Linked DNA regions of Homo sapiens: region 1 is linked to region 2. The links come from fine-mapping of genetic effects on gene expression. Tissue or cell type: blood mononuclear cells. Region 2 holds a variant in brackets; the other region holds the start of a gene. All regions are shown on one strand. Distances are between the middles of the regions.

Region 1 (5,359 bases), 21 kb after region 2:
TGGGCCCTGCAGTCCCCACCGCACATCCTGCTGGGAGGCCCCCTCCCATGCCGCTTCAGTCCCAGGGCAGCCTCCCAGCCCGGCCCGTGGGTTGGGGCGCGGCTTCCTGGCTGCGCTGGGCGGGGCTGCGCGCCAGGGGCAGGTTCTTTGGGTCTGGGCCTCGCTCCCGCAGTGGGCGGATTGTGGGGGGGAGGTGGAAGAGGTGGAGAGCGAAGCCGGCAGCCTCGCAGCGTGGGCTGGAAGCAGAGGCGCCGCCGCGGTCCAGCTCCCCGCACTGTCCGTGGGCCGAACCAGGGCTCCGGCCGTGGCCGGCATGTCGGGGGCGGGGGGCGCCTTTGCCTCGCCGAGGGAGGTCTTGCTGGAGCGGCCGTGCTGGCTGGACGGGGGCTGCGAGCCGGCCCGCAGGGGCTACCTCTACCAGCAGCTGTGCTGCGTAGGTGGGTGCAGTGGCGTGGCCGGTGGCACAGAAGGGGCCACCATCGCTCTCACCTAGTGGGGCTGGGTCTCTGCTGGGAACCGCCGCCTGGGCTGGGATGGGGGTGGCGCCTTGGCCCGGTGCAGCCTTGCCCCCGAGCTCCGGAAACACCTGGGGAGGAAGGCGGGGTGATGTTCCCCTACCCCCATTTGTTTGTCTCTAGAGAAGGGGCTGGAGGGGGCGGGGCTGGAGGGGGCGGGGCTGGCCCACCCCCGGCTGTTCCACGTCAGCCTGGGCTTTGGCCTGGGTTTCCAGGACACGGGGGAGGGAGGAGGTGCTGAAGGCGGGGCTCCAGGCCTTCTGTGGACTTGCTGCAGTCCTGGGCCAGTGGGATTCCCTTCCCAGTCTTGGGGTTTCCATCCTAGGACCGTCTCCACTAGCTGCGGGACCTCAGCCATAGGGTCCACACCTGTAAAACGGGGGCGATACTCCTCAGAGGGCCACGGCAGTGCCTGTCGTGAGGGACCCTGGGCTGGCGGCCGAGGGTCAGCAGCCCTGGACAGCACAGGTGTCAGGCAGGTGTGCAGAGGCACCTGAGCTGGGGGTGTTCTGGGTGCGTCCCAGGTGGGAGAGCCAGCTGAGCTGCAGCTGTAGAGGGTGGGTGTAGCCTGGCTGGGTGGGGCGGGTGTGTCTGTTGGTTTTAGGGTCAGAATAGGATTGGATGGGGCGGGGCAGGCTGGGCTGGGAGGGAGGGGAGGTGATGAGGAGGGAAGAGCTCAGAGCAAAGAGGCACCCAGAGGCAGGAAGTAGGGAAGGGGAGCTTGAGCCAGGCTTGGGAGGTGGAGGCCCCTGACCGAGCCCCCAGCCCACCTGGTCCCAGCCCTGCCCCGCCCCAGCCCTTCTCCTCACCCGGTCCCAGCCTTGCCCGAGTCCGTGTCTGGAGTCCCCACCGTGCCCCTTCCCTTCCCTGAGCCCCTGCCCCATTCCTGACCCTGGCCCGGCCCAGGGCGGCATCTTTGGAGGCCTGTTAGTGGCAGGGAGAAGGCTGGAACAGGGGCCTGGCTGGGGTGGGCTCCACGTGGGTCCTGGACCTTGGCCCCGGCTCCCAGTTTCCAGCTGTCGTGGACTCCCTGTGCCCACCTCCCTGGCTGTTCCGGGATCTCACACTGTGCCTCAGCAGAGTGGCAGCCCCGTTCCTGCAGGCAGGAGCCACCTGGTCACGGCCGGGCCCCCAGAGCCCATACCCAGCAGGCGCGGGGCTTGGCCTCAGGGTAGCTGCTGGCCCAGGGCTTCTGAAGAGGCGACAGTGTTTCCAGAGGCTTTGGACCCAGGGAGGGGCGGCAGAGGTGTGGGGTCCGGGGTGCCCTTGGGCACAAGACTGGAGGTGCTGACCAGTGCGGGGTCAGATTTTGATTTGGGGGCTTCTGGTGACTCCTGAGGTTCTGGAGGCTGCTGGGCCGGACAGGCAGAGCAAGAGGGTCACCCTGAATCTCATGCCAGGCTCAGAGACCATGCATGGAGACCAAGGGGTGTCTTCGTTGGGCGGCGTGTACGATGTGGCAGAGCCCTAGGGGCTGGCTGTGCCCCTTGGCGTGGAGTGGGGGCTTCCCCACCTCTGAGGGGTTTGGGCACCCCCCATTGTGAGGGTTCTGGTGCCCCCTCACGGCCTCAGGGGCAGTAGGAATGAGGTGGGGTGAGCTCTTCCCAGAACTGAGGCCGAGTGCAGCTCCCAGCTGGACCGAATCTGCCTGATGTGCGGCTGGAACATTCTTGTGGTTGGGGCAGCGCATTCTTTCCTATGGTGGTCGGGTGGGCTGGGCAGGCCCAGAAGCTGGCCAGAGGCAGCTCCGCCCCGGACCCCAGGGAGCCGGAGGCCCCAGCCAGCGCAGGCCCTTTGCCCTTTGCCCTTTACAGCATGAGACTGCTTCCCTTGAGCCCCACCCAGCTGCAAACAGCACCCCCCACCCCTGGGGTCGCCCAGGTCCTGCCTCAGGTGTGGCTTCCCCTCTGTGAGTCACAGGCTTGGGCCCCCTCCCCATCCCTGACTCACTGGCGAGGCCCCTCCTGGGGCTTCCCGATGCTCCATTCCCCCATGAGGCCCGGCCTCCGTGAGTCAGCCCTCAGCTACGCGCCTCCGACGTGAGGTGTCTGCCTGGGGCAGGGTGGGCTCCGCAGGTGGGCACTGCTCCAGGATGTGCCAGGTGGGCAGCTTGGGAGGGGCCAGGCCTGGGGTGGGACCCCACTGGCCCCAGGGCCAGGGCAGGCACCATGGGGCAGGGTGTGCTCCCCGCTTCATGCAGGTCTGTGAAGAGGTGTGATTGGGGGGCTGCAAGAGCTGACAGGCAGCAGGTCCCCTCCCCTCGCCAGGTATCAGCGGCTTCTTGAGTCCGCCCTGGCAGGGTGGGTGGGCAGAGGCTGAAGCAGGGCCTGGCCCAGGCCTGGAGGGAGCTCCAAAGAGAGGCGTGGCCTCAGAGCCCCTCCCGTCGGGGGAGCCCTTCAGTCTGTTGGGGGGTCCTTCTGGGTGGCTGTGGGGACGGCCTGTGTTCCTCTGCGGTCCTGGCACCATTTGGTGTGCAGTGAAGTGCCAGCTCCCCGTGTCCCCAGGTCCCCCTAGGGGGCTGCAGTGGTCGGGGTGGGTGAGGAAACCCCGGTTTCCTGTTTCTGGCGGGCCGAGGGCGTGTCTGTGGGGGAGGGGGCTGCTTGCTCCTTCCCGCCGGGACACTCCCCTCCCTGGCGGCGGCCTGGGCAGGGTGGGGCCTCGGGGGCGGGCCGGCCTCGCCGGGGAGTACAGCAGGCAGGGAGTGGCCGCACCGACTGGGGCTCTGAGCTGAGCCTGTGCCGAGTGAGCGTCTCGTGGGGCCGCCAGCCTTCAGCTGCCTGTGTGCCACACGGGGCTGCCCAGAGCACCGTGCCTGAGGCCGAGGGTCCGGGCGACGAAGGTGTGGGGGCAGCATGTCTCAGCACCAGCTCCGCGTGCCGCAGCCCGAGGGCCTGGGCCGAAAGAGAACCAGCTCGGAGGACAACCTGTACCTGGCTGTGCTCAGGGCCTCTGAGGGCAAGAAAGGTAGCAGGGCTCCCCTCGGGCACCCCCGCCAGGCAGGGCGGGCCCCTGCGGGAGGAAGGCCCACTTCCTGTGGCAGGAAAGCCTTGGCACCGCTGGGGGGCTGGTCTTGGAGATGGGGGTCGGGGGCCAGCCATCCCCACCCAACACGGAGTGGGCCGACAGGCGCCCGCGAGGCTGACGGGGGCCTCCGAGCGTCAGATGTCGGGCCTGGAAGGGCGAGGAACTCTGCGCTCTGGGGAAGGTTCGCTGCCCTGTCAGCAGCACACGCGGCTTCCCTTCCAACACCCCAGCGGGCCCGGGCCCTGGCTCTGCCACACCCCTGCTTGGGTCTCAGTCTGTAGAGGCCGGGGGGGACTGCAGGACGGGACTTGTGTGCCCTGGGCTCAGGGTGCGCCCAGGACCCTCCCATTTCCTCGGGGGAAGAGTCCGGGGTGGGGTGGCTGCACCTGGTGGCGCCTGGGCCCCTGGCACCTGGGTCTCTGCTGTGTGGCTGGGCTGCGGGTGAGGGCGCCTGGGTCTCAGTGTGTGATCTGAGGGAGGCTTTGGGGCTCCCCAGGCAGGACCTGGCCAGCCAGGCTGCTGTGTCTGCACGGTGGTCACCTGAGGGCCCCCGGGGCTTCTCCCAGGCCCCAGGTAAGCTGGTCTTGTCTCCCCCAGATGAGCGGGATCGTGTGCAGAAGAAAACCTTCACCAAGTGGGTCAACAAGCACCTCATCAAGGTTGGTGGCGCATGCTGGTGCGTGTCACAGGGGCTGAGGCTGTGGGAGGCGCTGAGGGAGGGTGGCCCCTGCCGCCCAAGGCTGTCCCCATGCTGCCTGTGTGCTCACCTTTCATCTCTGAAACCTGTTATTTTCTGTCCTCTTTCTTCCCTACGCCTGCTCCTGCCTCTCTCTTCCTCCTCTTCCTTCTGGTCTTTCCTGGTCTCTCCTTGCAGCACTGGCGGGCAGAGGTAGGTGCCTCCGTGGGGCAGGGTGTGTTCCGTGGGCTCCCGGGAGACTCAGCCCCCGCCTCCTTCCCTCTGGGACCAGCACCCACTCTGTAGATCAGCCACTCAGGGCCTATTGGTGGCTCTGGGGGACTGGCCACCTCAGCCGCTGCTGTCCCCACAGGCCCAGAGGCACATCAGTGACCTGTATGAAGACCTCCGCGATGGCCACAACCTCATCTCCCTGCTGGAGGTCCTCTCGGGGGACAGCCTGGTACGTGTGCCCCTGCCCCCTCCGGGCCCCGCCTGCCCCACCTGGAGACCTCTGCCTGCCTTCCCTCCTTGGGGCCTCTCCGGCCGCCCACTCTACTTGGAATCCAGCTCAACCCCTCCTGCCTTCTCCCTGGGGGCAGGCTGGCCTCGTCCCTGGCAGCACCTCCCGCCCAGGCTGCTGGGCATCACAGCCGAGGGCCTGGCCTGGGAGTGGCCGCAACCCTCGGACCTCGGCTGCTCTGGGCCTTGCCGCCCTCCGCGTCGGGACACAGTAACCTCATGCTCCGCTTTGCTTTGGTTTCTCTGCTGCTTGGACTCTGAACCTTGACCTCTGCCCTTTACCCTTTGCCCTGCTCTGGCCGGGCAGCCGAGGGAGCGGGACGTAAGCAGGAGCTCACGCCTGGTGAGTGGCTGTGCCTGCCGGCTGCAGCGGCACGGGAGCTCCCCAAGACCGTGGAGCCCGGCTTTCTGGGGGCTGGTGGCCCGTCGGCCAACCCCTGCCTGGCTCTTGGGCGGGTAGGTGGTTGGGTGTCAAGCTGCCCGTCCACCGTGCTGCCCAGAGCTGGCCTGGGACCCACCGGTGGCTGCTGTGGCTGCCACCGCCAGGCAGGAGGACCCCCCCTTTAGTGCCACTGCCCTCCACACGAGGCTTCCTGGCTATTGTCTCCTCCCACCCCTTCCT
Region 2 (5,359 bases):
CCAGCTACTCAGGTGTATGAGGCACGAGACTTGCTTGAACCCGAGAGGCAGAGGTTTCAGTGGGCCGAGACTGCACCAATGCACTCCAGCCTGGGTGACAGAGCAAGACTCCATCTCAAAAAAAAAAAAAAAAAAAAATTAGCCAGGTGTGGTGGCACATGGCTGTAGTCCCAGCTGCTCAGGAGGTGGAGGTAGGAGGATTGCTTAACCCTGGAGGCTGAACCCAGGTGACAGAATGAGACCCCATCTTGAAAAAAACAAGAACAACATTTAATCAGCTCAGAAGTCCCAAATCTGATCATCGAAGTTGTGTCTAAATCAGGTGTTGGTGAGGCTCTGGGTAGGATCCAGATGGGGGCAAAATTTTTCTCCATCTTTTTACTTGTAAAACTAGAAAGCAAGTTTTATGCCTCCAAACTGCAATGTTGGGCTAGGCATAGACTAGACATCACCATTCCCAAAGGGAGAAATATAAAGGAATAAAGGGGTTGCCAGTCCCAAGCAAGTCTGAAATCCAGCAGGGCAAATTCCGTGGGGTTTCAAGGCCCGTGAATGCTCTTCTGTGGCTCAGTGCCCCACCCTCTGCACCTGCACCTCTGCCAGCCTCTGCCTCTAGGCCTAAGGCCCTGACCTTGGAGTCATTCTTCCTTTTTCTCAAAGGGTAGCACATGTTTGCAGCTGCCTGGGTCTGTCATCCTGTTTCTTGCCTGTAGACTCTCAGAAGCCCAATACCTTCCTTCATTTCATCCTGTCTCTGTTCCCATCAATCCAAGCAGGCAGTGTTTCTGCTGGTAAAACATTCTCATAAACCTTCTGGGTCTCCCCTGTATGTCACAGGGAGCCAGGCCATTAGAGAGAAGGGTTCACTCGGATCCTCCCTGGATAATCTTGTCTCTATTCCTGGCTTCTGTTGAGATGAGTGAATGGACCCATGAGTCACATACCTCATCTCTGCAGAGATGGCTTTCTCTGCAGAACACACTTTCCTAACAGTGAACCTCCCAACATGAGCATCTTTTGCAATCTAAATAGGCTGCAGATATCCCAAATCACCCATGCTGTTTCCTTTTTGCTTAATAGTTCCTTCCTCAATTTATCTCTTTCTTCCTGTACTTTACCATAAGCAGCAAGAAGCAGCCAAGCCACACCTTCCACACTTTGCTTGGAAATCTTTTCAGCTAAATATCCAAGTTCATTGCTTACAAGTTCTGTTGAGCACCCGACAGTGAACACAGTTCGGCGAAGTTTCGCTTCAATGTGAGAAGCACCTTTCCTCCACTTTCCTCGTTGCCTTCTAAGGCTTCACCACAAGCACCTTTAATACCCATATTTCTACCAACCGTCTGGTCAGACAGGCTAGGCTTTTTCTACTGTGTGCCTCAAGATGTCCCAGCTTCTGTTTATTACCCAATTGCAAAGCCACATCCACATTTTCAGATATTCGTCACAGAGGCACCCTGCTCCTGCTCGCTGTCTGTATTGATTTCCTTTGATTCCCACAGGGAAGAGCCACAGGCAGGGCGCCCTAAAACAATAGAAATTTATCTTTTGATTGTTCCGGAGGCCAGAAGTTAAAAATCCGGTGTCGGCAGGTCCACGCTTTCTCCGAAGGCACCCGGGAAGAGCCTAGGAATAGCCGCCTGCCTCTTCCAACTCCACTGCCCCTTGGCTTGTGGCTGCATCATGCCAATCCCTGCCTCTGTGTCTCTCCTCGTCTAAGGACACTTGCTTTTGGATCTAGGGCCCATCCAGGTAATCCAAGATGATCTCATCTCAAGATCCTTTATTTAATTATATCTGCAGAGACCCTGTTTACAAATAAGGCCACATTTATGAGCTCCAGGGACATGGACATAGATTTTTTTGTGGCCACCATTGGACCTACCCAGCCATCCTGCAGTAGTTGGTTAATGTAGAACTTACACATTTTTGTTCCATAGTCATTGTTTTAAAAAGCGTGCACAGTGGGCTGGGCACGTGATTACAGGTGGCACATGCCTGTAATCCCAGCACTTTGGGAGCCTGAGGTGGGAGGATCTCTTGAGCCCAGAATGTCAACACTGCAGTGAACCTGGGCTACAAGAGCAAGACCCTGTCTCAAAAAGAATAAAAAAATAAAAAAGCATGCACAGTGTTCTTTAGTGTGTGTTAATTTATCTGTAATTTCATGATTTAATGTTATGAAGTATTTTAGACATAAGTAACTTCTTTTACTTAGTGATACAGCTTGGGCATCTCTCTGTGACATTAATTTACAATACAGCATTCCCCTGTATGGAAACCATATCATATTTAACCAATCAATCCTTTCTCCTAGGACACGGAGTTTAATTTTGGATTTTTGTATTAGAAATGACTGCAGTGAACAGTGTTGTAGCTGGGTCATTGTGCATCTCTATGACTGTTGTTAAAAAGGGAATTTCTGGCCAGGTGCGGTGGCTCACGCCTGTAATCCCAACACTTTGGGGGGCCGAGTTGGGCAGATCACGAGGTCAGGAGTACGAGACCAGCCTAACCAACATGGTGAAACGCTGTCTCTACTAAAAATACAAAAATTAGCAGGGTGTGGTGGTGCACGCCTGTAATCCCCGCTACGCAGGAGGCTGAGGCAGGAGAATCACTTGAACCTGGGAGGCGGAGGTTGCAGTGAGCTGAGATCGCGCCATTGCACTCCAGCCTGGGCGACAGGGCAAGACTCTGTCTCAAAAAAAAAAAAAGGAATTTCTGGGTCAAGTGGTTTTCAAAATTTAAGCTTTAATTTACATCAAGATAC[T/C]GTTTTTTACCTATCGTATTGGCAAAAATCAAAAATCTGGATTTCTAGGTTCTGTTGCTGAAGCTGTGGGAACCAGGCCAGAGAAAGCGTCTGTCAGAGCCACAAACGCGCAGTGTGTGTCCGAGCAGACGATGGTCACTGGCCTGAGTGCGCTCAGAGGCTGGGCCCACACGTGCCGCTCTGCATGGCCAGACGTGGGTCACGGTCCCCGTGCAGAGCGGGAGGCCTCCAGCTGTGGGGTGGGTGGGAAAGCAGGGGCAGAATGGTGCCCGGAAGATTTCACCGTTTGTGTTAAAAGGAAGAAAACCAAGAATCACATGGTATTTGCTTGATTTTCTGTAAAGAAATTCTGGAGAAACAAACAGGAAGCCACTAACAGTGATTTTCACACTGTGTGTGTGGGTGGGGGGAGACAGGGAGAAGGGAGGGGAGCAAGACTTCTCTGTCTACTCTCAGTGTTTGAGTCACGTGAATATTTTCTATTCCAACACGATTTTGATTTTTAAAGTTTAGTGAAGGGAAGAATGTAAACTGTTATAAGTTCTTTTTTTTTTTCTTGAGACAGAGTCTTGCTTTATCACCCAGGCTGGAGTGCAGAGATGCAGTCTCAGCTCACTGCAACCTCCGCCTCCCGGGTTAGAGGGATTCTCCTGCCTCAGCCTCCTGAGTAGCTGGGATTACAGGCACCCGCCACCACACCCGGCTAATTTTTGTATTTTTAGTAGAGACGGGGTTTCACCTTGTTGGCCAGGCTGGTCTCGAACTTCTGACCTCAGGTGATCCGCCCGCCTTGACCTCCCAAAGTGCTGAATTACAGGCATGAGCCACTGGGCTTGGCCTAAGTTTTTATTTTATTTTATTGTTTATTTTATTATTATTATTATTATTATTTGAGACGGAGTTTCGCTCTTGTTGCCCAGGCTGGAGTACAATGGCATGATCTCGGCTCACTGCAACCTCCGCCCTCCGAGTTCAAGCGATTCTTCTGCTTCAGCCTCACAAGTAGCTGGGATTACAGGCATGCACCACCATGCCCAGCTAATTTTGTATTTTTAGTAGAGACAGGGTTTCTCCATGTTGGTCAGGCTGGTCTCGAACTCCCAACTTCAGGTGATCTGCCTGCCTCGGCCTCCCAAAGTGCTGGGATTACAGGCGTGAGCCACCGCGTGCCTGGCCAGTTCTTTTTTATTTTTTTTGAGACGGAGTCTCACTCTGTCGCCCAAGCTGGAGTGTAGTGGCATGATCTCAGCTCAATGCAACCTCCACTTCTCCTGCCTCAGCCTCCTGAGTAGCTGGGACTACAGGCGCCCGCCACCACACCCGGCTAATATTTTGTATTTTTAGTAGAGATGGGGTTTCACTGTGTTAGCCAGGATGGTCTCAATCTCCTGACCTCGTGATCTGCCCGCCTTGGCCTCCCACAGTGCTGGGATTACAGGCGTGAGCCACCACACCAGGTTTCAGACACAATTTTTAAACAATTTCTAAGTTGCTGGCTAGGTACTGCAGTCGTCGTCCCTCCAGCAGTGCCCAAGTGGGCCGACTCCTCCCACCTGCCCAGCACCCGGTGTTGGAGCTTCAGACAAGTCACATGGCCTCGCTGTCTGACGGGAACTTGTGTAAGGAGTCTCCTGGCAGAGCCAGCGGGAGGGTGAGCAGAACTGCGGCCGCGTCAGGTTAGCGCGGCATCTGCCACCTGGGCCTCTGCATCCCGGACCCCGAGCCTGGTCCTGGAGCCATCCTGGAGCCGGGGCGTTCCCTGCATCAGCTCTGACCGATCGTCAGTTATCTTATTCCAGCACGTTTTGTGCTGATGAAGAGTTTTTCCTGCTGTATTTTCCTAACTTGTTATTACTGGCCTAAAGAAATCTCTCGGGTCTTTTAACTGCGTTTGAAGCCAGCCTCTCAATGAACTTTCTCTGAGCTCCAGTAAATGGTGAGTTGAGTTGTTTCAGGTGCCAAGAGGAGCAGTGCTGACTTGGGTAAATGCTGTCCCATGTCCTGGCGCTGGACCGAGAGCTGCGCCTGCACCGTCCGCATTCACCCTCACACGCCCTCCCCTCAGCAGCCTCGCCTCACACTGGGAGGGTGCCCCGCTGTGCTACAAGGGTCATTTATTTGCATGTTAACGATGTAAGCTCATTCCTTGTTATAAATACTGGTTTTTATCAAATGAGCTGTCGAGATTTTCTAGATCAATATACCGGTTTTCTCCTTTAATCTGCTAGTGAAGTCAACGATATTAACAGAGTTCTGGGAAAGTGCATTATCCCTGAACTCCAGGAATTCATTTCTTCTCTTGCTCCATGTTTCCTGTGGTGACACCTTCGTGTCTGGTGCTGGGTGAGGCAGCCGCCCCAGGGGCCCACAGGTGTCTCGGTGTTGGAGGGCTGAGAGGGAGGGAAGGGGGAGCCACCATGGATCAGGTGAGAAGCCTCTCCACAGAGGCCTGGCGAGGTCCACCCTGCTGCAGCAGAGCAGGTGCCTGCGTGAGGAGGGCCTCCAGAGGGCAGCGGCAGGGCTGTGGTGGGACCTGCTTGTGCTCGGAGAGCACTGGCTGCTGTTGTCCAGTGCTTGGAGGTGAGG

The links.
Region 1: PLEC starts here. The variant in region 2 is fine-mapped to the expression of PLEC in blood mononuclear cells (TOPMed, PIP above 0.99).

Annotation. Positions count from the first base shown.
Region 1 is chr8:143,937,470-143,942,828 of GRCh38, reverse strand. PLEC (plectin) reads left to right here and starts at 3,232. Exons shown (of 32, transcript NM_201384.3): 1 at 3,232-3,479; 2 at 4,137-4,198; 3 at 4,589-4,678. The coding sequence starts at 3,368. RefSeq lists silencers at 1-448, 669-758, 3,006-3,235, 3,516-3,615 and enhancers at 2,314-2,608, 2,786-2,845, 3,256-3,495.
Region 2 is chr8:143,958,589-143,963,947 of GRCh38, reverse strand. It overlaps a transcript of PLEC not described here. Among named protein-coding and RNA genes, the nearest start is that of MIR661, 16 kb to the right of the region's middle. The variant T/C (reference allele first, on the strand shown) is at 2,774.